Linked DNA regions of Homo sapiens. The protein of the gene in region 4 interacts with the protein of the main gene of each other region in a pairwise test. Each region holds a gene or a part of one and is shown on either strand. Other genes may lie near its edges.

What was found.
Region 1: the proteins of ZNF250 (region 4) and GRAP2 interact in binary tests that used the Homo sapiens proteins (3 or more experiments, as listed by UniProt).
Region 2: the proteins of ZNF250 (region 4) and GUCD1 interact in binary tests that used the Homo sapiens proteins (3 or more experiments, as listed by UniProt).
Region 3: the proteins of ZNF250 (region 4) and YJU2B interact in binary tests that used the Homo sapiens proteins (3 or more experiments, as listed by UniProt).
Region 5: the proteins of ZNF250 (region 4) and CDR2L interact in binary tests that used the Homo sapiens proteins (3 or more experiments, as listed by UniProt).
Region 6: the proteins of ZNF250 (region 4) and RUBCN interact in binary tests that used the Homo sapiens proteins (3 or more experiments, as listed by UniProt).
Region 7: the proteins of ZNF250 (region 4) and TOP3B interact in binary tests that used the Homo sapiens proteins (3 or more experiments, as listed by UniProt).

Annotation. Positions count from the first base shown.
Region 1 is NC_000022.11:39,956,584-39,960,083, reverse strand, and holds part of GRAP2 (GRB2-related adapter protein 2), read right to left. Parts: intron 30-3,500; coding exon 1-29. UniProt on the Homo sapiens protein: Interacts with SLP-76 to regulate NF-AT activation. Binds to tyrosine-phosphorylated shc.
Region 2 is NC_000022.11:24,542,539-24,545,138, forward strand, and holds part of GUCD1 (protein GUCD1), read right to left. Parts: intron 1,546-2,600; coding exon 1,304-1,545; intron 563-1,303; coding exon of another isoform or gene 560-562; coding exon 468-559; 3' UTR 1-467.
Region 3 is NC_000019.10:13,754,395-13,757,894, reverse strand, and holds part of YJU2B (probable splicing factor YJU2B), read right to left. Parts: intron 1,699-3,500; coding exon 1,616-1,698; intron 478-1,615; coding exon 422-477; intron 110-421; coding exon 49-109; intron 1-48. UniProt on the Homo sapiens protein: May be involved in mRNA splicing.
Region 4 is NC_000008.11:144,884,454-144,887,953, forward strand, and holds part of ZNF250 (zinc finger protein 250), read right to left. Parts: intron 2,450-3,500; coding exon 2,387-2,449; intron 1-2,386. UniProt on the Homo sapiens protein: May be involved in transcriptional regulation.
Region 5 is NC_000017.11:74,990,632-74,994,131, reverse strand, and holds part of CDR2L (cerebellar degeneration-related protein 2-like), read right to left. Parts: intron 1-3,500.
Region 6 is NC_000003.12:197,726,905-197,730,404, forward strand, and holds part of RUBCN (run domain Beclin-1-interacting and cysteine-rich domain-containing protein), read right to left. Parts: intron 1-3,500.
Region 7 is NC_000022.11:21,962,288-21,965,787, forward strand, and holds part of TOP3B (DNA topoisomerase 3-beta-1), read right to left. Parts: intron 3,089-3,500; coding exon 2,998-3,088; intron 2,029-2,997; coding exon 1,874-2,028; intron 1,742-1,873; coding exon 1,636-1,741; intron 607-1,635; coding exon 460-606; intron 316-459; coding exon 142-315; intron 1-141. UniProt on the Homo sapiens protein: Releases the supercoiling and torsional tension of DNA introduced during the DNA replication and transcription by transiently cleaving and rejoining one strand of the DNA duplex.

The DNA.
Region 1 (3,500 bases), on a different chromosome or scaffold from region 4:
GGTGTCGAGAGAGGCCTTCGTGAAACCATCTGTGGGGGCGAGATCAAACAAAAGGATCAGGATGAGACACAGGAGTGACAAGAGGGAGACGTGGAGAAGAGGTGACCCAGAGGGAAAGAGGCTGGGGACTCTGTACAGTAGGGAGCAGAGAGAGACCAGGTGCTGTTTGAAATCAAACCAGTGCTCCAGGCAGCTTTCAGGAAAGGCGAGGGAGCATTCCCCTTGATTCACCCTCTTTGTTCCTTCTCTCCAGGAGAAGTCTCTCTCCAGCCTGGGAAACGAATCATGGAAATGTGTCGCTGCACCAAAATGGGGCAGTGTGGGAGTGACTCACTGCAGGAAGCAGCCGCCTGCCGGCAGCTGCGGAAGAGATAGACCAGAGCTGCGAGGACAGAGGATGCACTGGGGAGGGAAGGGAAGGCTTCAGGCACTGGAGCCAACCAGGTGCAGCCGGCTGAGCAGGGCCTGGGGTGCTCATGCCTGCCCTGAGGTCTCAGTGGCCTAGAGGTTCCTCCCTGGGTATTAAAGGAAAGTTACAGCCCAGGGCGTCACGTTACCTAGGCTGGCATGGAGCACAAGGGGGCTTTGCTCAGTGTGCCTAGCAGAGGCTGCAGTGTTCCTAGGGAGTCCAGTGTACATGCTTGGAAATCAGCGAGGCTGGCAGCCGCCAGAGAGCGGCGTCTATACAACCAGATCCTGGGCCTGCCCCAAAAATCCAGGCTGGGAAATAATCTTTACTGTGGAAAAGAAGAAACAGGAGAAATTACTCTTTTAGCAGAATGGTCAGGGTGGCAGCCCCTGGAGGTACAGCTGCATACAGCGTGGCATGTATGAAATAGGTCAAACACTTACACAGGGCCAGGCAAGCTGTGGCTGCAGCCTCAAAGCAGGAGGCCAGAGACCTCTCTCCACCACAGACAAGCAAAATGAGTGTCTGCAATCACTCAGCGGCCAAAGGTGGGACTGTGTCACATTGCTTCAAGGTGGCTGCTCTAATTGCTGTCACCAGAAGGCTCATACGCATGTTCCTTTAAGATAAAAGCCCGTCAGGCCTTGGCTTTGGATTCCTTTGTGAGCAATTCTCTGTGCTTTCTAGAATTTGGGAAACTGAGACATAGGTAGCAGGAAGGATGTACTTACTGGAGACTGAGTCCCCCACTGGGACTGAGGGGGAAGTTTGGCTGTGCTCTGAGAGGGCTGAAAGCAGCAGTTTCTGGTGGCCTGGAGATTCTGCCTGAGTATTTGCCACACAATTCTACAGGGCTAAACAAGAGGCCACCACACACACCACTGCCACGTGTGGGAAATGTAATGGGGATGGGAAGAGGAATGGAGTATGCACCACAGCAGCCATATCGCAAAGGAAACATTTCAGAAGTGAAGGGGATTTAGGAAATACACATTTGTCCTCTGACTGCAATCTGATAGGGGGCTTCTTTAAAGATTTGTAAAAATCACCACACATTGCATATTAGACATGAGTGGTCATGGTTTCAATAATACATATTCGTTCGTTCATTCATTCATTCATTCATTCAACAGCTTTACTGAACATCTAGTACTGTGCTGGGCCCCTCCTGGGCACTGGGGACACAGTAGTGGGCAGAACAGACACACACCCCTGCCCTCAGGGAGCTTACATTCTAGTCGAGGGGGACACACACAAAAGAACAAAATAATTAAGATCTGAAGCGTGCCAGATGATGGTAAGTGCTGTGGAGAACATGAAAACTGAGAGGAGAGATGGGGCGCTGTGGGTGGGAGATTAATGTAAGGTATGGTGATGAGAAAGACCTCACTGAAAAGGAGACATTCTAAACCTATAGGGGACTGGGGAGTGGGAGGAACCAACACAAGAGACTGAGGAGGAGAAGCCAGGGCAGTGGGAGGACAACCGGAGGAAGGACGTCCTGGAGCCAAAATGAAAGAGGTGTTCCAGTGGGAGGGGGGATCCCCAGGGCAGGTCATGCTGAGATGACCCCTGGGAGCTACAGCCCATGGGGAGCCTGGTGGGAAGGGTCGGGAGATGAGGAGTTGGAAGTAGCAAATGCACACACTCCTTTTGAAGAGATGGAGTGGCAAGTGGAAGGGGATTTGGGATTAAGAATTTTCTTGATTTATTTATTTATTTAAATTTTTTTTTTCTTTGAAACAGAGTCTCTCTCTGCTGCCCAGGCTGGAGTGCAGTGATATAATCATGGTCCACCACAGCCTTGAACTCCCAGGCTCAAGCGATCCTCCTGCCTCAGCCTCCCAAGCAGCTGGGACTATAGGCGCATGCCACCACGACCAGCTAATTTTTAAAAATTTTTTGTAGAGATGGGGCTCGCTATGTTGCCCAGGCTGGTCTCAAACTCCTAGCCACAAGTGATCCTCCTCCCTCAGCCTCTCAAAGGACTGGGATTACAGGCATCAGCCACAACAAAACCCACCTGGCCTCTGGGTTTGGTTTTGTTTGTTTGTGTTTTGGTAAGTTGGGAGAAATTGCAGCGTGTGTGTTTGCTGACAGGAATGATCCAGCAGAGAGGGAAAGGAGGTTGACGTGGAAGAGAGAGAGAGGAGAATTTCTGCTAGAAGCAGTGACAGTTCCTTCCAGCCAGCTGCAGGAAAGGCCGACTGTTTGAGCACACTTGCAGGAGGCAGGTGGATGCGGTGGGGGAGGGGGGTCTGGGAGCTTCACTTCTGGTGGCTTTCATTGTTCCAGAGAACCTGGAATCAAGGTCACGGGCTAAGAGTGATGCACGGAGGGGCTGAAGGTTTGAGGAGCACGTGGGGTATGCAGAGGTCACCTAGCAGATTCCTGGGCAGCATCAAGGGTTCCGTCAAGGTCAGTGGTCATTCTCTTGGTTTGGTGGTCAGTTCAGGTTTACCAAGACTGGTGCTCTTGCACCTTGCTGGAGTCACCAATACTACTGTGGTTTTCTAACAAGCTTTTGCTCTTTGAGCTAGACCCTGGTTCTGAGGCAAGATTAGATTTCTATCTAACCCTTGTGGTCAATTCTTGAGACAAACGAAGCCCAATCTCAATTTTTCATTTCCTCTTTAGGAAGAGAATTTCCCCTTCCCCCCGCTGACTTCTCTCATTGGGGTGAGCATGCTTTACTGAAGGCAGGGAGTGTCTGTCCACCCACTGAGTGAAGGGTGAGAGCCTGGTGAGGATGGTTAGGATTAGGAGGTCACAGAGAAGCGCTTAGGAGAGCAGCTCCCGAAGTGGGGTGGCCAATAGCGTCCCCTTTGGAATTCTGGGGAACGCCGTGATTGAAATCACTATAGATAATTTGAGTTTACAAACTCATTTTATAAAAACTTAAAATAGGCCGGGTGCAGTGGCTCACACCTGTAATCCCAGCACTTTGGGAGGCCGAGGCGGGTGGATCACCTGAGGTCAAGAGTTTGAGACCAGCCTGTCCATCATGGTGAAACCCCATCTCTACTAAAAATACAAAAGTTAGCTGGGTGTGGTGGCATGCACCTGTAATCCCAGCTACTAGGGAGGCTGA
Region 2 (2,600 bases), on a different chromosome or scaffold from region 4:
GAGAGAGGGGCCTGGAGGGGTCCTCAGCCCTGGGGGATTGGGGTCAGCTATGCTGTCTCCAGACACTCACATACTGTCCTGACAAGTGGCATCCGTCAAGCAACTTCTCTCTCCAGGCTCAGTCCTGCGGTCTGTGGGGAGACCATTGCCATGGATCTGGCTCAAAGGCAACAAGGGCACTGTCGGGACTGGACTTCCTGTGGGCGCAGCTGGAGTCAAGGCTTGGGGTCTTGGGGTATGCTTCCAGCAGCCAGCAGGTGCTTGGGGTGAGTGACATGACAACACACGGCACTGGCAGACAAAGCAGCTGTGCCAGTCTCCGAGTTCCTGGGACTCTGCCAGATGGGCTGAGGCTGCAGTTCCACATTCCAACCCCAGCAGCCCCAAGCCTGGGCCAGGGCATCCTGAGCGGGCCCGGCTGGGGTGGGGATGGGGTCCGAGGGCCTAGGCGCACCAGGCTCCTGCTGTCAGCTGTCCAAGTAGACAAAGAGGATGTCCTCATCTGTGCCATAGCTGGTTCTGGCCTCCTCAAAGTTACTGATGCTGGTGCTGCACATTCCTGCTGGGGGTGGGGAAGGCAGAACGGGGTCAGTGGGTTGTGAGAGAGCACCTACACCACCGACACAGTGCCCAGGGGAGCTGAGTGAGGTCTGTTTCCCATCCACATGGCCATTCCTCTCAACTCAAGTCCTCCACCCCCAGGAAGCCCTCCTTGCCCATCCTGGTCTTCATGAGGTTTCTCTGACTCCTCCCCAGTAAAGCAGTTGGAGAAAGGCCCAGAGAGGGGCAGAAACGTGCTCCAGGCCACATAGACGGGGTAAGTCTATGTGGTCAGGGCGTCCAGGGGCTGTCTATGTGAATCCAGTCTATGAGAGTCAGGGCAGCCCTTCCCTGTGCCCGGAGGGCAGTAGGCAGGCCAGGATGGGTCTAGAGCAGGGGCTGGGTCTGGCCGGGCTTTTCTTTCTGAGGAATGTGCCGGCCATCCTGGTGGTTGGGGGAGGGGTGCAGCCTGGGCAGCATGAAAGGGTAAGGCAGGGACCTGGGCAGTGGCGTGGGGCCTGTGGTGTGAGAGGGAGGGGTGGCCAGGGTGTAGAGGAGGCTGGCACAGTTTGCGGCAGGTTTGCCTGCATGGCCTGAGGGGTGGCCACAGTGACAAGAGCCCAGGAGGAGCAGGGGCTTTGGGGAAAAGGTAGGGAGGGAGGCCCTGGCCACACTAGATTGAATGGGTGGGAACTGTGGGCACTGGGCATACAGAACAGTGAATGTGGACCACTCTGCCTCACCCACCCCACCCAGCACTCACGGTCGGCATAGGCTGGGTTGTTGTAGAAGATGCAGCCAGTGGCCCGGTTGTAGCCACGCAGCACGATGAAGTGGCCCTGGTAGTCAGGAGTGCGGCAGAAGCAGTGGTGGCCACTGGGGGTGAAGCAGCAGTACTTGACAGGGCTGGAGCACAGGTCACAGTGCAGCACCCCCGAGTTCACCAGCACGATGGCCACATGGCCCTGAGCCAGGTGCGCCTGGATGTCCTTCACACTCACTGTGCTGTGGGCGGGAGGGGGGTCAGCTGGTGCTGCTGGGCCCCCATTCCCCATCCCTCAAATGGATCCCTGCTTGTGCCTGTTTCTCTGTTACAAAGCTTGGGGATCGGCTCCTTTTCCCTTTGCCCTGAACTCCCTGCTCTGTCACTGTGGCCCAGGCTCAGCCTAGAGCCAAGCAGGAGACCGGTGGGGGGGGTGTGTGTGTGTGTCTGAATGTGCACAAAGATGAGCTGGCTCTGTCAGGCCCTTCACGGGGAGAGCATTCAGCTCCAGGTGGGTCCAGTCAAGGGCCACTAGAGCAGCACACAGAAACCATCCTCCTACTGCACCCCAGCCTGGTTAGTGAATTCTTTTTGCCCAGCCCTGTCTCTCCTCTACCCTAAATCATGTGTGGTTTACATTGAAAACTGCCAGCCAAGCATGGCTCAGACACTTTCAAAACCAAATGCTTCTCTGAAAGAGCTATTTTACTTTTTTTCTAAGGCTCCTGGTGGCAGAAGGGGCTGCCCAGGAAGGGCTGGGCCACATTGCTTCCAGGGGAGCTCCAGTTCAGCAATGACATCTACCTGGAGCCTCCCTCACTGGCAGAAGGCACTGCCCCATCCTGTGCCTTCCACTAGGCAGCAAATCCAAATGAAAACCTAGAGCAGGGCTGGGCACAGTGGCTCACACCTGTAATCCCAGTGCTTTGGGAGGCCAAAGCGGAAGGATCGCTTGAGACTAGGAATTAGAGACCAGCCTGGGCAACACAGCAGTACCCTGTCTTTACAAAAACATTTAAAAATTTACCAGGCGTGGGGCGTGGTGGTATGAGATTGTGGTTCCAGCTACTCGGGAGACTGAGGCAAGAAGATCACTTAAGCCTGGGGCTGTAGCAGTGAGCTGTATTGCAATATTGCGCCACAGCACTACAGCCTGTATGACAGATTAAGACCCTGTCTCTTAAAAAAAAAAAAAAGAAAAGAAAAGAAAACACCCAGAGGGACAGAGGGCAGATGGGGCTGTGGGCAGGGGGAGCTCTAGGCCAGGGGCTCCTGCATCTTTGCTGGAGGGGCTGCT
Region 3 (3,500 bases), on a different chromosome or scaffold from region 4:
CCTGTGGCCACCCCACCTGTTCCCAAGATGCCACCAAGCCGCCCTTACCTGTAGATCGGGGTTGTGTAGTAATTGCCCACCTTCTTCTTTTCTGCATTGTAACGAACACCTGGAAGGGGGTCAGGCGGGGGTGGTAATTTCATTGCCATCTGAATTTTGCAGATGGGTAAAATGAGGTACAAAGAGGCTCACTGTCACTTGCTGAGGGTTCCCCAACTAGGAGGAGTTAGAGACGGGATTGGAAGCCAGAGCCTGGCTTCCTAATCCCTCTGCAAAGGGGCTTCCATGGCCAGCCAGTCACTCGGGTGCCCGTCTCCTCCCTCATTCCTGATCAGGACCCTCCCACCCCCACCCCGGCGGCATCCAGCAGTTAGGGGGTCTGATGTTTGCAGGACTGAATGGAGGGTGGGCAGAGGCTCACCCATGCCGATGTGGTTCTTGCAGCCATCGCACCAGATGTTATATGGCATTTCGAATCTGCAAAGACAGACAGCATCTTACTTGCACTTGTCCACTTGGACACTCCCTGGGTCTCCACACCTGCGACTCTGGCCGCGGTTGTGATTTGAGGGGTGGGGTATTAGACTGCCCTGTTAACGGGAGTTGCTGCACTCACATTACACAGGAAATGGATATATGGAAGAAAAAGAATCACAACCATTGTAACTGAGCAGGAACTTCCTGCCTGCTAGAAAGCAGACTGACCAGGTCCAGGGACAGCCGCCTTTGGGTGCTGCTGCGACTTTTTTTTTTTGAGACAGAGTCTTGCTCTGTTCCCCATGCTAGAGTGCAGTGGTGCGATCCTGGCTCACTGCAACCTCTGCCTCCTGGGTTCAAGCAATTCTTATGCCTCAGCCTCCCAAGTAGCTGGGATTATAGGTGTGCGCCACCAATTCCGGCGAATTTTTTTTTTTTTTTTGAGATGGAGTCTCGCTCTGTTGCCAGGCTGCAGTACAGTGGCATGGTCTTGGCTCACTGCAACCTCCAGCTCCCTAGTTCAAGTGATTCTCCTGCCTCAGCCTCCCGAGGAGCTGGGATTACAGGTGTGAGCCACCGCACCCAGCCTAATTTTTTCTATTTTCAGTAGAGACAGGGTTTCACTGTGTTGGCCAGGCTGCTCTCGAACTCTTGGTCTCAAGTGATCCACCTGCCTCACCCTCCCAAAGTGCTGGGTTTACAGGCGTGACCCACTGTGCCCAACTACGATCACTGTCTTTTTTGAGAGTCCTATGTGATCAAGTCCAGGCTGGCCTGCTACAGGTTGAGATACAACACGGAGCAGAGCCCAGCTGTACAGGTCAAGTCCCTGCTAAACCAGCCAGTCCCCAGCCAGCCAACTCTGAAACACATGGGAGCCCAGCCCAGATCAGGCCAGCCTAGCCCAGCCCAGCCAAGCTCTTCCAAGCCCAGCAGAGATATTTTGCTGAGCTGCAGACATGTGAGCAATAATAAATGCTTATTGTTTTGTCACACGGCAATAACTGACTGATACGGTGACTTTCTGCTTTATGGAATGAAGACCCTGCAGCACTGGGCCAATGAGGGCACTGAACTCTCCTTGAGACTGAAGGAATGGGGCAGGACGGTGGGGTCCTCAGGTGATGCTGGGCCTTACCGGATGATGAGGATGCCCTGTGACAGCTTCCGAGCCCGCTCCCGAAGCGGGTGGCTGTTGTGGTATCGGTTGAGAGAGCCATGCTGTGTGGAGAGGATGAGGAGCGGATTAGTGCTGCTGAGCTGGAGGAGCTCACAATTTTCTGCCACCCCCACTGCTTTGGGACAAGTGTCTCACAGGTGGGAGAGGCCTTGATTCTTATGTCCTGCAGGACGGGTGTTCATAGCAATAGGGGGCATCCAGGTCTTACTGGAACATGTAGGCTTGGAACCAGGAACGTGAGTTTGAATAGTCCCTCTCTTATTTATTTATTTATTTTTTGAGATGGAGTTTTGCTCTTGTTGCCCAGGCTGGAGTGCAATGGCATGACCTTGGCTCACTGCAACCTCTGCCTCCCGGGTTCAAGTGATTCTCCTGCCTCAGGCTCCTAAGTAGCTGGGATTACAGGCGCCTGCCACCACGCCCGGCTATTTTTTTTGTATTTGTAGTAAAGACGGGGTTTCACCATGTCACCCAGGCTGGTCTCCAACTCCTGACCTCAGGTGATCCACTTGCCTCGGCCTCCCAAAGTGCTGGGATTCCGGGTGTGAGCTACTGCGCCCAGCCCTGTTCCCATTTATGAGCTGAAAGAGCCAGGGGACCCTGGGCGAGTGACCTCACGTTTTGCCTTCCCGAGCCTCTGTTTCCCTTGTCTGTCAACTACGTATAATGGTCATTATTACTTCCAGGTTTTATGGGGAAGATGAGGTGAGGTGACAAGACTGGCAAACATTCGCTGGGGACTTCATGTGCATCACCTTATTTTTTTTTTTTTTTTTTTGAGACAGAGTCTCGCTCTGTCACTAGGCTGGAGTGCAGTGGCGTGATCTCGGCTCACTGCAACCTCCGCCTTCCGGGTTCAAGCGATTCTCCTGTCTCAGTCTCCCAAGTAGCTGGGACTACAGGTGTGGGCCACTACGCCCAGCTAATTTTTGTATTTTTAGTAGAGATCAAGTTTCACCATGTTGGCCAGGATGGTCTTAAACTCTCGACCTGGTGATCCACCTGCCTTGGCCTCCCAAAGTGCTGGGATTAGAGGCGTGAGCCATGGCGCCGGCTTTTTTTTTTTTTTTTTTTGAGGCAGGGTCTGGCTCTGTAGCCCAGGCTGGGGTGCAGTGGTATGATTATGACTCACTGCAGTCTCCACCTCCTGGGCTCAAGCAATCCTCCCACCTCAGCCTCCTGAGTAGCTAGGATTTATCCCTCAATGATTCTGTGAGGTCAGCTCATTTTATTTCCCCCTTCTGACGTATGGAGAAACTTTGGCATAGAGAGGCTAAATCCTATACTCAGGACGAGGCAGCTGGGACACTTGGGCCCTTACTGAGCACCTACTGTGTGGGGACACAGCCACAATAAGATAGATGAACATCTCTGCCTTCAGGGAGAGAATGTTCTAGCGGGGGAGATGGACAAGACGCAAATAAATGAATAAGTGAGGGAGTTATAAGGGCTATGAGATTATATAAAGTGCTCAGCAATGCAACAGAGAACGAGACAGTGGTCAGGGAGGACCTCTGTGAGAAAAGCACTTAAGGAAGTGAGAGTATGGTGAAATGGAGGAAGAGATTCCAGGCAGAGGGGACAACCAGGACGCCACAGGTGCTGGAGCTGGGGAAGCCATGGGATCTGACCCTTCATCTGTGCGCTCTGCCTTATCCTGGGCCCCTGCTGTAAACACACTATACTCTAGTATAGTGTGGACATGGAGTTACAGGTCCCTGAGGAGAGCCACAGTTATCACCCAAAAGTGAAGACAGCCTCGAGACTCAGGTGACATGCAGAAGACAAAAAGACCTTGGGGGCCACCCATCCTTCCGCAGCAGTGGCTCTAACCCCAAGAGGG
Region 4 (3,500 bases):
ATGTTGGCCAGGATGGCCTCAAACTCCTGACTTCGTGATCTACCCACCTCGGCCTCCCAAAGTGCTGGGATTACAGGCAGGAGCCACGGCGCCCGGTCCTGAATTCTTTTCAAATGTTTTTTTAAATCATGAAGCATGCTTCTGTGAAGATTCTCCTATGTTTCCTGGTGCTTACACACAAATGTCCTTGCTGTATACATATGCAAGAGTGGGAAGTGGTGAACATAGGAATTCATGTTTTCGATTTTTTTTTTCATTTTTTTTACCTCCATTCTCTCAGAATGTGATCATGTTTTCAATTTCATTGGATAATGCCAAACTTTTCCAAAGTGGCTATGTGAATTTACATCCCTATTAGCTGCCCTGCATCCTCACCCACATGTTATATTGTCAGATCTTTCCATTTTTTCCATTCTGAAGGTGTAACATCATGTCACAGTGGTTTTGATTTCCACTTTACTGATGAATAATGAGGCTGAGCAGTTTTCTTATTTATTGGCCCTTTGGTTTTCCTAATCTATGCAGAAATTTGTGCCTACTTTTCTTTTTGGGTAATTCTGCGTCTTTTTATTCTATTCAGAGGAATTTATTAAGTGTATTGACAAATTGAAACAGTGAGAATTTAACAGTTTTTTTAATAAAAAAATTTAAATTCACTGTCTTCAGTTTAATACAATTTTTTTGAGACAGAGTTTCGTTCTTGTTGCCCAGGCTGGAGTGCAATGGCACGATCTCAGCTCACCGCAACCTCTGCCTCCCAGGTTCAAGCGATTCTCCTGCCTCAGCCTCCCAAGTAGCTGGGATTACAGGCATGTGCCACCATGCCCAGATAATTTTTTGTATTTTTAGTAGAGATGGGGTTTCACCATGTTGGCCAGCTTGGTTTCAAACTCCTGACCTCAGGTGGTCCATCTGCCTCGGCCTCCCAAAGTGCTGAGATTACAGGCATGAGCCACCACCCCCGGCCCAGTTTAATACAATTTTTAACATATCTCATTTTAGAAAGTCACTCTATGTGGGTTTTTTTTTGAGACAGGGTCTCACTCTATCACCCAGGCTGGAGTGCAGTGGTGTGATCATGGCTTACTGCAACCTCAACCTCCTGGGCTCAAGGAATCCTCCTGTCTCAGCCTCCATGTGGCTGGGATTACAGGAATGCACCATCATGTCTGGCTAATTTTTAATTTTATTTTGTAGTGTGGGGTCTCAGTATCTTGCCTAAGCTGGCTATGTGTTTTTTAAACTGATAGAAGTTTTAGTTCTTTCTTTTTTTAATGTATAAGCCTCATCTTCATGGAATAAAAGCCTATAGGCTAAAGAAATAGTTACTCATTTACACTGAAAAGTATTACTTCTATTGTCTGAAGTTTCACCCGGTGTGGTGGCTCATGTCTGTAATCCCAGCACTTCGGGAGGGCAAGGTGGGAGGATCACTTGAGGCCAGGAGTTTGAGACCAGCTTGCGCAACATGGTGAAACCCCGTCTCTACAAAAATTAGCTGGGCATGGTGGTGTACACCTGTGGTTATAGCTACTCTCGGGAAGCTGTTGTGGGAGGATTGCTTGAGTCCAGGAGGTTGAGACTGGTGAGCCGTGATTATGCCACTGCACTCCAGCCTGGGCAACAGAGTGAGAGCCTGTCTAAAAAAAAAAAAAAAAAGTTTCCTGAATGGGCGGCTTCTGACCTGATGCCAGGGTAACAAGATAGACAAGATGTCTTTAATAATAAAAACACAGGCCAGGCACAGTGGCTCATGCCGGTAATCCCAGCATGTTGGGAGGCTGAGGCAGGAGGATTGCTTGAGCCCAGGAGTTTGAGACCAGCTTGGGCAACACAGCAAGACTCTGTCTCTACACTGCACTCCAGCCTGAAAAAAAGAAAACACACACACACACTAAACTAACTGCATAAGAGACTACTCGCTCAATCATCCATGGCACGAAAGCATCATATGACTGCTTGTGAGACAGAATCAAGTTGCTGTGAAGGCCAAACTTGCCTGCACCTTGCATCCATACTGTGCAGAAGCTGGACTTCAGCCAAGAGTCACTTGCTTTTAGAATAATGGTTTTGGTTGTTAAGTATAAAGTAGGGAAGTATGTTTTAAGCATGACGGAACAAATAAAAGGAAACAAAATGATTTCACCGAAATAAATGTTTAATTATAAAAACCCAGTAATCTCTCTAGGCCTACTATGGCTCACAAGAAAAGGAAAAATGTTTTAAAAATTAAAAACACAAAAAGCCCCTCCCTGGTGTTTTGTAGCAATTGTGTGAGTTGTTTAACACGCTTCATAGCACCGAGTCGCCTCTACATTCTTGTAAAACATTAGTGTTAACACCTTCAGAGATTGTACTGAATTAAAAAGATCAGGCATACACTTACCCCATGGACAAGATAAACTGTCTTGTTGTGTACAGGCTGTAGTGTGGTCATATTTGAGGTTGTCTGGAAAAAAAACAGCGAGTTGAAGTGACAACAAAATACTCCCTTCAAGAGTGGAAAATCCTGGCCGGGCATGGTGGCTCACGTCTGTAATCCCAGCACTTTGGGAGGCCAAGGTGAGTGGATCACTTGAGGTCAGAAGTTTGAGACCAGCCTGGCCAACATATAGTGAAACCCCGTCTCTACTAAAAAATACAAAAATTAGCTGGACATGGTGGTGCATGCCTGTAGTCCCCACTACTAGGGAAGCTGAGGCAGGAGAATCGCTTGAACCCCGGAGACAAGAAGTTGCAGTGAGCCGAGATCACACTACTGCACTCCAGCCTGGGGGACAGAGTGAAACTCCGTCTCTCAAAAAAAAAAAAAAAAAAAAAAAAAAAAGAGTGGAAAATCCTTTCGTTGCTATTACAACATGTAATTTACTGAGTTACAAACAGCAGGGTCAGGGCTGGGCAGGTGCACACACTTATCCATCCTGAGGAACTGCCAGGACAAGACAAAGGCATATCTACTCCTCGCTTGCTCTGATGCTAGTGGCAGTGATCCAGGTTGTGGCAGGTGGCTTCTGTTTCTATGCACATCAGTAATCTAAAACTCAGTCCCATCGTCCTCTGTGGCCTGTGTTAGAGGTGAGGGGACCAGGTGCTTCCATGAAAAAACTTCTCATCTCCAACCAGCCATGCTCCCAGAGAATTTCACAGTCTCTGTGGTGTCAAATCAAAGGGCGCTCAAAGGCAGTTTAAGCTCTCCATCAGGCGAGTACATAGCTGGACACAAGGGAGCCCAGGACTGGTTTGGCAGTGGCAGCAAAATGCCCTCCTGTGTTTTCTTGTCTCCTACAGCTGCAGTCAGTAAGCAGAAGTTCTATGCAAGATTTCCAAGACATGATGATGTGTCTTCTTGTATAGTCACTGGAAAATTAAATTCCTCTAAGGCTGGCATGTACCTTGTTCCTCTGAGGATATCTGATTTTGCAGGCCAGTAAGAGGTAGACTGTAATACCTGGTGCCCTATCCACATAAAGCTACTTTAGAAATAAGGAGGAGCTTTCAAG
Region 5 (3,500 bases), on a different chromosome or scaffold from region 4:
GCTGGGGAGCCCAAGGGATGTCTTTGAAAAGAAACCTAGACCTGGGGTGGAAGTTTTCCTTTGGGATGAGCCCAGGCAAGCAGTGACTCTTGGTGGGCAGCTGAGGGCAGAGCCTTGGGCCTTCAGCCAAGCTGGGGGCAGAACTGACATTGCCTTGTGAGAGGCAGAGGGGCCAGACCAGCCACTGGGCCTGGACATAAAGGCTGAACTGCCCCACAGGAACAAATCCGGAGTCTGATCCTGTGCACAGAGGTGAGGTTTTGAAACAGCCAAAGTGGAGCCTCCAGGGCTGGGTTTTAGCCAAAGGAGGGCCCTGTGTCATCTGGAGAAGGAGTGCAAAGCTGCTATCCTAGAGCAAGGCTGCAGTAACTTAGCCTGAAAAAACAAAGGCAGCTTTCCCAAACATCTTCCTCAGCCATTGAAAACAACAACAACAACAAAGAAACCAAATCATGTAAATCATAGGTAAGAACTTTTAGCCTTGAGCAATTAACCTTCTGATGAGGATGCCAAGAAAAAACTAGTTACATAACATAAACCTAGTAAGGGAATGCGGATATATGCTGTATGAATTTATGACCTGTCAGTTGGGCAAAAGTCTGGAGGTATCTACAAATTGTAAAGTTTGATGTAAAGATCATTGCACTGGGCAACATAGTGAGACCCCTGTCTCTACAAAAAAATTAATTAGCTGGGCGTGCTGGTGCTTACCTGTAATCTCAGCTACTCAGAAGGCTGAGGCAGGAGAATTGCCTGAACCTGGGAGGCGGAGGTTGCAGTGAGCCAAGATTGTGCCACTGAACTCCAGCCTGGGCGATGGACCAAGACTCTGTCTTGAAAAAAAAAAAAGATTGAACTACAGCCCTGTACTATATTGTGCGCATGGCAGTAACTCAGGACTCAGGAGCCGGGCAAGATCACCTTCAGTTTGTGATGAGACAGCCATGCTATCTTCCTGTTTTCCATAGTGGGACTCAAATTTAGCTCATCCTGAACAGTATCCAGCAGTTCAGATATACATGAAAGAGATCAGAGGGCTACTCTCCTAAATGTTTTCCCCCTTGGAAACTGTTACATGGTCTGCAAAGAGGCCATTGCTACTGATTCTACCTCCTGCCGTGGGTGTCGGAGGACATGCTCCAAGTAAGTGGCCTTCATGGAGCCCCTGCAGCTTAACTAGAGTGCAAAGCCACTGCATCAGAGGTGAGTGAAGAAAGGCCAAGTGCAGTGCAACATCATACCCCCCACTTCCAGGTTAGTGTCTGGGCTGTGTGTAGATTTCTAATGCTGGCAGGCCAGGGTGGTATACCACCCTATAAACCAGAGACATCAAAGGTTGCCCTTTGAAGGCAGTGAATCGACTTGGGCCACCTAGTGATTCAGGGACAGGTAGAAAGAGAAACACAATAGAAGCTGTTTGGGGGCAGAGAGGCAGGTCTCAGATCATTTTAGGGAAACTGGATCACAGCGCAAGCTAAGCTGGTCAAAGCTGCCAGGAGGGATCAGGGAATAGTCTAGAAGTTGCAGAGCAGGGAACTGAGTGGAGCCAAGTACTAGGGAGAAGACACCAGCTACCAGAGGGTGGGTGATGGCTCCAGGCTCAGAGGAGAGAGGCCTGGGAACGGGAGAATGGGGGAGCTGGCTAGACAGGAAGTGAAAGTGGAGTAACAACCTGTCACAGCTGGATGAATGGGACACACCGGACCAAGCTGAGGGAAGGTACTAAGTCTGGGCTATGGGTTTGAACTGTGCAGGTCAAAAGAAAAAAAAAAAACAACATTAAGTCTGGGTTGGCACCTCCCCTGCCTGGACCCCAGGGTTTTCTGGGGTCTCCTTCAGGAGGTTTTAGTGGTTTTACATGAAGCAATGCCCCAGAGGCCTGAGGAGGAATGTCTGGGGAACCCAGGGCCTGTCTTTGAAAAGAAACTTAGAAATCCCACTGTCCCTCACTGGCTCGGGCACCACAGATTCCAGAGCAGAGACTCAGCAAAGGGAGAGGGGACATTTTCAGGGAGGACAAAGGTAGGGGTGTGGGCTCCAGGCTGTGGACACAAGTACCACCTGGCAGGGCTGTGAGGTCCTGTTCTCAGCTCCAGGGCACGACTGTCAGCCACTCTGGGTCCACAGAATCAGGGTCAGGTCACCTTTGGGGTAACCAGGGTGGAGGCAGGACCTCCCTCCCGTTGCCAGGTCAGAGCTCTCCTGAGGCTGAGGACTCAAGGTCAGCTAGGCAGGCGGGGACAGCACGGGTACCAAGGACTTCAAATCTGTGACTCAGCAGCTGCCTCTCAGCCTGGAAAGAGGAACGCACAGGGCCTGCCACGCCTGGTCCAAGGTAGGGGAGGAATGTGGGCCGAAAGAGGGAGTGCCAGTGCTTAATAATTAATGGCTTTTTCTTTCTTTTTTTCTTTTTTTGAGACAGAGTCTCACTCTGTCGCCCAGGCTGGAGTGCAGTGGCGCGATCTTGGCTCACTGCAAGCTCTGCCTCCCGGGTTCACACCATTCTCCTGCATCAGCCTCCCGAGTAGCTGGGACTACAGGCGCCCGCCACCGCGCCCGGCTAATTTTTTGTATTTTTAGTAGAGACGGGGTTTCACTGTGTTAGCCAGGATGGTTTCGATCTCCTGATGTTGTGATCCATCCGCCTCGGCCTCCCAAAGTGCTGGGATTACAGGCGTGAGCCACCGTGCCCGGCTCTTTCTAGGCTTTTTTTTTTTTTTTTTTTAAAGACAGAGTTTGCTCTTGTTGCCCAGGCTGGAGTGCAATGGCGCTAGCTATCTCAGCTCACTGCAACCTCTGCCTCCTGGGTTCAAGAGATTCTCCTGGCTCAGCCTCCTGAGTAGCTGGGATTACAGGCATGTGCCACCACGCCTGGCTAATTTTGTATTTTTAGTAGAGACGGGGTTTCTCCATGTTGGTCAGGCTAGTCTCGAACTCCCGACCTCAGGTGATCCGCCCGCCTTGGCCTCCCAAAGTGCTGGGATTACAGGTGTGAGCTGCTGTGCCCAGCTGGCTTTTTCTATTTTTATAAATGCTCGTGGCAGTGGGCAGAGGGAACACAGCGAGAATCTAGGACCTCACTTGTCCCACGGCTGCTTTCCACCAGGACAGAGCATCAAAGCCAAACAGGATCTCTACAGTCAAGCTTCTGGAAAGTGGAATCAGGGCCTGCCCTTTGGGCAGGAGGAAACAGACAGGAGGGAAGACCAGGTGGCTGGCTGAGAAAACCATTTCTGGGCCACTCACAGGCAACCAGGGAGCAGCTGGGTGGAAGAGAATTTGTGGGTTGGGAGATGCAACAGGCCTTTGACACCCAATATGGCTGGCCTTTGGCCCGTGCTCCGTCCCACCATCCAGCTCTCCATGCCTGGCCCCTGGGGCACAGGGCGGGCAGGGCCCACGGGAATGCCCCACAGAACCCGTGTCTGATGCTTCCTTCAGCCCCTCCCTCCCTATTTTCCAGCCTTCTCATGTCGCTCCATGACTTGGTACAAGCATCG
Region 6 (3,500 bases), on a different chromosome or scaffold from region 4:
GAATCTTAGCTGCTCACAAACTAGATGCACATTCTATTTTTTTTTTTTTTTTTGAGACTGAGTTTTGCTCTGTCGCCCAGGCTGGAGGGCAGTGGTGCGATCTCAGCTCACTGCAACCTCCGCCTCCCGGGTTCAAATGATTCTCCTGCCTCAGCCTCCCAAGTAGCTGAGATTACAGGTGCCTGACACCATGCCCAGCTAATTTTTGTATTTTTAGTAGAAATGGGGTTTCACCATGTTGGCCAGGCTGGTCTCGAACTCTTGACTTCAAGTGATCTGCCTGCCTCAGCCTCCCAAAGTGCTGGGATTACAGGCGTGAGCCACCTCACCTGGCCTAGATCCACATTCTTGACCAAGCCATTTAAACTCTTGAAGCTTCAATTCCCTCACTGTAAAATGGAGACAACAATTGCTTCACAGAGGAGGGTGTAACTGACAATCTAGGGGAAGCATTATCATAGAGCAGAGAATAATATTCTCTTTTCTCTGCCATTTTCCCCCTGTGAACTTCCATTGCATAAATCTAATAAATCCAACAAAATCAGGAAGGGTACCTAGAATAAAGCCTTCTTACCCATTCTGCTTAAAAAGAAAATTCTGCCAAAAATTGTAAAGGATTGGACAGTCTGCAGCATAATGAAGTTTGGTTACAGTGTTCCACATCCAAACAGTATCTCCACTGCGTTTAAACCAAGGTCAGGTCTGCAGGTAAGCATGGATTGCAAGGCCCTGTTGATGCTGTTGGTCCTCTCACTGAAGTAGGAAAGCTAGGAAGGACTTCCTCAAATACTGGATATGACTTTTATATGGTAAAGACTTAAATCTGCTTGACGGAATGGAAGAAACTGTCAAGGTGTTACTGCGGCACAATAAGGCTGATTTCATGAGACATATAAGAAAGACAATCTTATTACTTCACCAGGCTCATGTTATACTGTCTAGGTAGCAGAATGCTTTACAAACAAGGTAAAGCAGGCACACAACACCACTTTAATAGCAATGGCACGGGAGGAAAGACAAAGTGTTTCAGTCTTTTCAGTTTCAGGTAGATGATTTAAAGGTAAAAGGCACGCTGGGCACAGCGGTACATGCCTGTAGTCCCAGCTCCTCAGGAGGCTGAAGCAGGAGGACTGCCTGACCTATGCTGGGCACAGTGGCACATGCCTGTAGTCCCAGCTCCTCAGGAGGCTGAAGCAGGAGGACTGCCTGACCTATGCTGGGCACAGTGGCACATGCCTGTAGTCCCAGCTCCTCAGGAGGCTGAGGCAGGAGGATTGCCTGACTTCAAAAGTTCAAGTCTAGCCTGGGCAACAATGTGAGAACCCTTCAAAAAACAAAAACAGCTGTGGGGAGAGGAAAAGCTTCAGGCTTAGAGTCCTTGCAGTCCCCTCCTGGGTTCTGACAACAGCAGCTTCCCCAAAAGCTTCAAGGGTATGTTTCTGTAATTTTTGTACTAAAAATCGAACTAGCAATTGCTAGTTTCCTTTAAAATCATGTGATCATCCTGCTTTGCTACTAGCTCTATGTAAACTGTTAACTCCTAGAATAATCAAACAGGGACGGGAAAGAAAGAAAACAGGAAATATAAAAACGTGAAAAAGTGAAAATGAATAGGAGAAATGCGAAGAAAGTGGCACTTCCAATGACAACAGTTCCACTAGCATCTGCCCATCTGTAAGAGGGATGACCACAACGTTAATGTCTTCATTCCTCAAACAAATATTCACTGAACACCAACTATATGTCAGGCACTGGGCTAGGCACTGGTGCTTAAAGAAGCGTTATAGCGGTTAAAGAGGAAGAGTCCCATCTGTCAGAGAATTCAGAACGTAATGGGGGAAATGGACACTTACATAACCATGCTATGAAGGGAGATGTCAGATGTGCTCTAACAGAGAGGGGTGCCTTCTAAAGGAGCGTCATTTAAGGGACGACTAAGAGCTCTCCAGGCAAAGAGGGAGGTATTGCAGTGAGTGTAGAAAAGCAAGAATGAGAATGGCAAGAAAGATGTGAGAGTGGGTGAGTGTGCCATGGTTTTGTAATTGGAAACTTCATTAAGTACTAACAGAAAGATTCAGGCCGGGCGCGGTGGCTCACGCCTGTAATCCCAGCACTTTGGGAGGCCGAGGCGGGCGGATCACGAGGTCAGGAGAATGGCGTGAACCCGGGAGGCGGAGCTTGCAGTGAGCCGAGATTGTGCTACTGCTTTCTGGCCTGGGCAACAGAGCGAGACTCCGTCTCAAAAAAAAAAAAAAAAGATTCAATACCAGGGTGAGGAGTTTTGACATGGAAAATATTCTGTTTTCAATGGGAAAACCACTGAACATTGCTTTTGTTTTTTTTGTTTTGTTTTGTTTGTTGTTTTTGAGACGGAGTCTCGCTCTGTCGCCCAGCCTGGAGTGCAGCGGCGCGATCTCGGCTCACTACAAGTTCTGCCTCCCGGGCTCACGCCATTCTCCTGCCTCAGCCTCCCAAGTAGCTGGGACTACAGGCGCCCGCCACCACGCCCGGCTAATTTTTTTGTATTTTTAGTAGAGACGGGGTTTCACCATGTTGGCCAGGATGGTCTCGATCTCCTGACCTTGTGATCCGCCTGCCTCGGCCTCCCAAAGTGCTGGGATTACAGGCGTGAGCCACCGCGTCCGGCCCCTGCTTTTGTTTTGTTCTGTTTTTTGAGACAGTCTCGATCTGTTGCCCAGGGTGGAGTGCAGTGGCATCACCTGGGCTCACTGCAACCTCCGCCTACCAGGTTCAAGCAATTCTCCTGCCTAGCCTCCTGAGTAGCTGGGATTACAGGGGTGCACAACCACATCTGGCTAATTTTTTGTATTTTTAGTAGAGACAGCATTTTGCCATGTTGACCAGGCTGGTCTTGAGCTCCTGACCTCAGGTGACCCACCCACCTCAGCCTCCCAAAGTGCTGGGATGACAGGCATGAGCCACCAAATCCAGCCAATCACTGAACATCCCTGAGTAAAATATTATAGTAGCTTTGTTTCTGAAAAATTAAACTAGTAGCAGGGTGAGCTGGGATGACAGGCATGAGCCACCAAATCCAGCCAATCACTGAACATCCCTGAGTAAAATATTATAGTAGCTTTGTTTCTGAAAAATTAAACTAGTAGCAGGGTGAGGCTATCTGGAATTGGGACTAAATTCAGGTTGGAAGATTAGTTAAGAAGCTACTGAGGTAATCCCCAAGAAGAGATTATATGGGTCTACAGTGAATAAACTTTATATCTGCCCAGAATTTGTCCCTTTATTTTGGTAAGAGAACCCTGATTTTCCACTGAGGAACCACCTCTCTACTACTTACTCTGGTCCATGAGGTTCCAAGATCTCACCCTCCCTTAGGATCCAGGGTTGGGCACATAACTTAGGCCTGACTAAGCAGAATAGCCCATACCCCGACCACAAGAACAGAAACATAACTCAAGTCAGTCCAAAAAGAGTCAGCCCCGGGATTTTTGCTTTTGCTGGAGCTGCTGGGACTGCATCTT
Region 7 (3,500 bases), on a different chromosome or scaffold from region 4:
TGGGTCACCAGTTTCCAGATACCAGCCCATGGAGGGGTGCTGGGCTGGGCACACAGGGCTGGCGGGGCAGCTTTGTGAGTAGACTCGAAGCCTGAGTACTGGAGACGGAGCCGGCTCTGGGGCCTGGGCAGGCGCACCCACCGATGCCATGCTTCTCCATGAGCGTGATGAGCTCGGCCTCCGTCAGGTAGTCGGGTGGGTTCGTCTGCTTCTCCAGCATCTTCACCTCGCCCACAGGGAAGGCATCACCCCGCTGGCAAGTGGGCAGGCTCTCCTCCAGGGGCACGCTCTGCCAGGGCATGACCTCCGTGAAGCCTGGAGAGATATGCGCCGCCACTCAGGGTCCCCAGCCTGGGTGGCCGGGGCCTCAGACCCTGGGCCTCCCATCCCCAGACACGATGTAGAATGTTTGTCTGCCCATGAAGGCACAGAGGAGGAAGGCTGGGCCCGTGGTGTGACCTGGTGAGAGGACGGTCTTCCCGGAGCAGGTGAAGAGCTCGGGCCCAATTCTGAAGGAGATGGTGCTCTGCAGGTACTTGCAGTCATGGCTGACCGTGGCGATGAAGTGTCTGGTGATGTACTCATAGAGCCGCCACGCGTCACCCCCTGCAACAGGCCAGGGCTAGTCAGTTGGGAGCCAGCTGGGGGCTCTGGCCGTGAGGAGCCCCCAGTACTCTCGCTCGAGCAGCAAGCTCCTGCTTACAGAGCCGCTGTGCAGGACACACTGCAAATCCTGGGGAAGGAGGAAAGAAAATGTGCAGGAAGGCCGGGCGTGGTGGCTCATGCCTGTAATCCTAGCACTCTGGGAGGCTAAGGTGGATGGATCACTTGAGGTCAGGAGTTTGAGACCAGCCTGGCCAACATGGTGAAACCCCGTCTCTACTAAAAATACAAAGAAATTAGCTGGGTGTGGTGGTGGGAGCCTGTAATCCCAGCTACTCGGGGGGCTGAGGCAGGGTGAACTGCTTGAACCTGGGAGGCAGAGGTTGCAGTGAGCCGAGATCGGGCCACTGCACTCCAGCCTGGGTGACAGAACAAGACTCTGTCTCAAAAAAAGAAAAAAAAAAAGCAAATGCGGAGGAAGGGAACACAAGCCTCCATGCCTCAGTGGTTTCTTTCTGGCTGCGGCTCCCACCATCCTGCACAACCTCCTGTCCCTGCTTCTGGCGGGACTGCTCTTCAGGCATTGGCCTGTCTTTCCATTGTCTCGTGACATGACACCATTGCTTCAAACTCAGACTGTCCACAGGTGGCTCCTGTCTCTACCTGCACTGCTCTCCCTTCCTCATTTGCCTTCTCCTGGCACTCGGACCACTGGTACCACCTTAGGCCAGCTGGGAGGTAGGAGGTGTGCTGCCCCCTCCCCCACACCGCCACTCTCTACCCTGGTTTCATTCATGTCCCCTGTGGCGTCTGCCCCCTTGCCTCCCTGCAACAGCACCTGCTGCTACCTCTTCACTCCTGTCCTGGTCCCATAGCAATGGAGCTCATCTTCCAGGTGGCCCCCCATCCCCACAGCCAGGGCAGGCAGAGGCTGAAGGAGCCCCCACATTGCCAACAGGGCCTGCAACCTTCACTGTCGCAGCTCGCCCTTCCCTCCCTGGAAGCACACCGGGTATGGGATGAGAGCGGTACCTAATTCGGCCTCTGTGGCAGACTTCATGGGGGTGATGGGGGGATGGTCGCCGGCGTCATGGCCTTTCCGCGGGCGGTTGATACCTTCTGCTAACAACCGCTTCACCTGAGGGAGAGAAGACAGAGCAGAGTCTGTGGCTGGGCTCGGCTGCCTGCCTGGGTTTGGCTGACGTACCAGACCTGGTCCCAAGGCCTCAGTGACACACACACATGCTGAGGCCGGCCCGGCTCCACTCACCGTGTCGGCCCAGTAGGGGTGGTTGGCCTGCTGCCGCAGAGAGCCCTTCAGGTCAAAGTTCTCAGGGTAGTGGGTGGTCTCTGTCCGTGGGTAGCTGATGTAGCCTTGCGTGTAGAGCCGCTCAGCCGTCTGCATGGCGTGCTGCGGCCCCATGCCTGCGAGAGACAGGAGGTTCTCAGAGGGCCAGGTACGTGGGGATGGCCAGCTGCCTGCCCTGGCCTATGCACTCAGGCTCCCCCATTGTGGCCGGCCCCTCCTGGAGGGTGACGGTGGCTCTGAGCAGGCACAGCTGGAGTGCAAAGCTGCTGGCCGGGTGGGCACCTATGCCACACAGTCTTGTATGAGGCTGAATCCCGCACCCGTAAGGCTGAATCCTACACCCAGGATGGGCCTGATGGGAAACGCCACTCACTCTACCCCACGGTGCATCCTCATGGGGCTCATGGCCATGGGGATGACACATGGCCTTCAGAGCACCACTCCCCATGCATTGTCCATGGAGCCATAACCATACCTCGGGGTTGGCTGACGACAGAGTTAGCACGCAGCCCCATTTTGAGCCCTTGGGTGTTTCTGTCCTCACAGCACTTTGGGGCCACTCAGGGGGGCTCGTCCTGCTACTCCCTGACCAGCAGAGGCAGGCGCTTAGCTAGCAACCACTCCCAGCATTGCTGCCCTCTGAGGACGCTGGAGCCACCACTCAGTGTCCACTGAGAGGACACTGCCCATAGTTCCCTGCGGGGGTGGGGGGCACCAATGCCTAGGGGCTGACAGCTGCCAGAGACCACCAGCTTTCCAGCCCAACCCCCTCCTCGTTACTAAGGAGAAAAGACTGAGGAGATGAGGCTGAGGGGCGACGTTCACACTGGTTCCCTGAAGGTGACATCTGGCTGGGGCCTCTCCCCTCACCAGGGATAGCTGCTCAGGGACTCTAACATCAGGAGGTCCCCTCAGGTGGTGACCAACTTTACCACCTTTACAACCTAAGGATAAGTGAAATCCTCCTGAGGCTCAGATCCCCTTGAAGCCTTGGGCACCATCCTGCAACCCTGGGCACTCGCTGCTCCAGGCTGAACCTGCCTCAGGAAGCCTTCTGGTGACTTGAGAGAAATGTCCCTACATACCCAGAGAAGAGCTGGCCACACGCAGCATCTCCACAGTGTTCAGGGCCAGGGGCCTCTGCTTGGCCTTTTCTTTCCTGCTTGTGGCCTCCACCTGGAAGACAGGACAGTCAATGATTTGGGGAAGGAGGAAGACACCACCATAGAGGGAATCAAGATGTGTGGACGAAGGGTCTGGTTTCATTCATCTGGTCTCCCTGTTTCTCCAATTCATTCTTCCCAACAGTCTAAAGACTTGATTGAATATTTATTCAGGACCAGGAAAGGAAAAAGAATGAAAATTCTTTTTTAAAAAAAAATTTTGGCTGGGTGTGGTGGCTCACGCCTGTAATCCCAGTACTTTGGGAGGCTGAGGCGGGTGGATCACCTGAGGTCAGGAGTTCGAGACCAGCTTGACCAAGATGGTGAAACCCCGTCTCTACTAAAAATACAAACATTAGCTGGGCATGGTGGAACGTGCCTGTAATCCAAGCTACTCGTGACGCTGAGGCAGAATTGCTTGAACC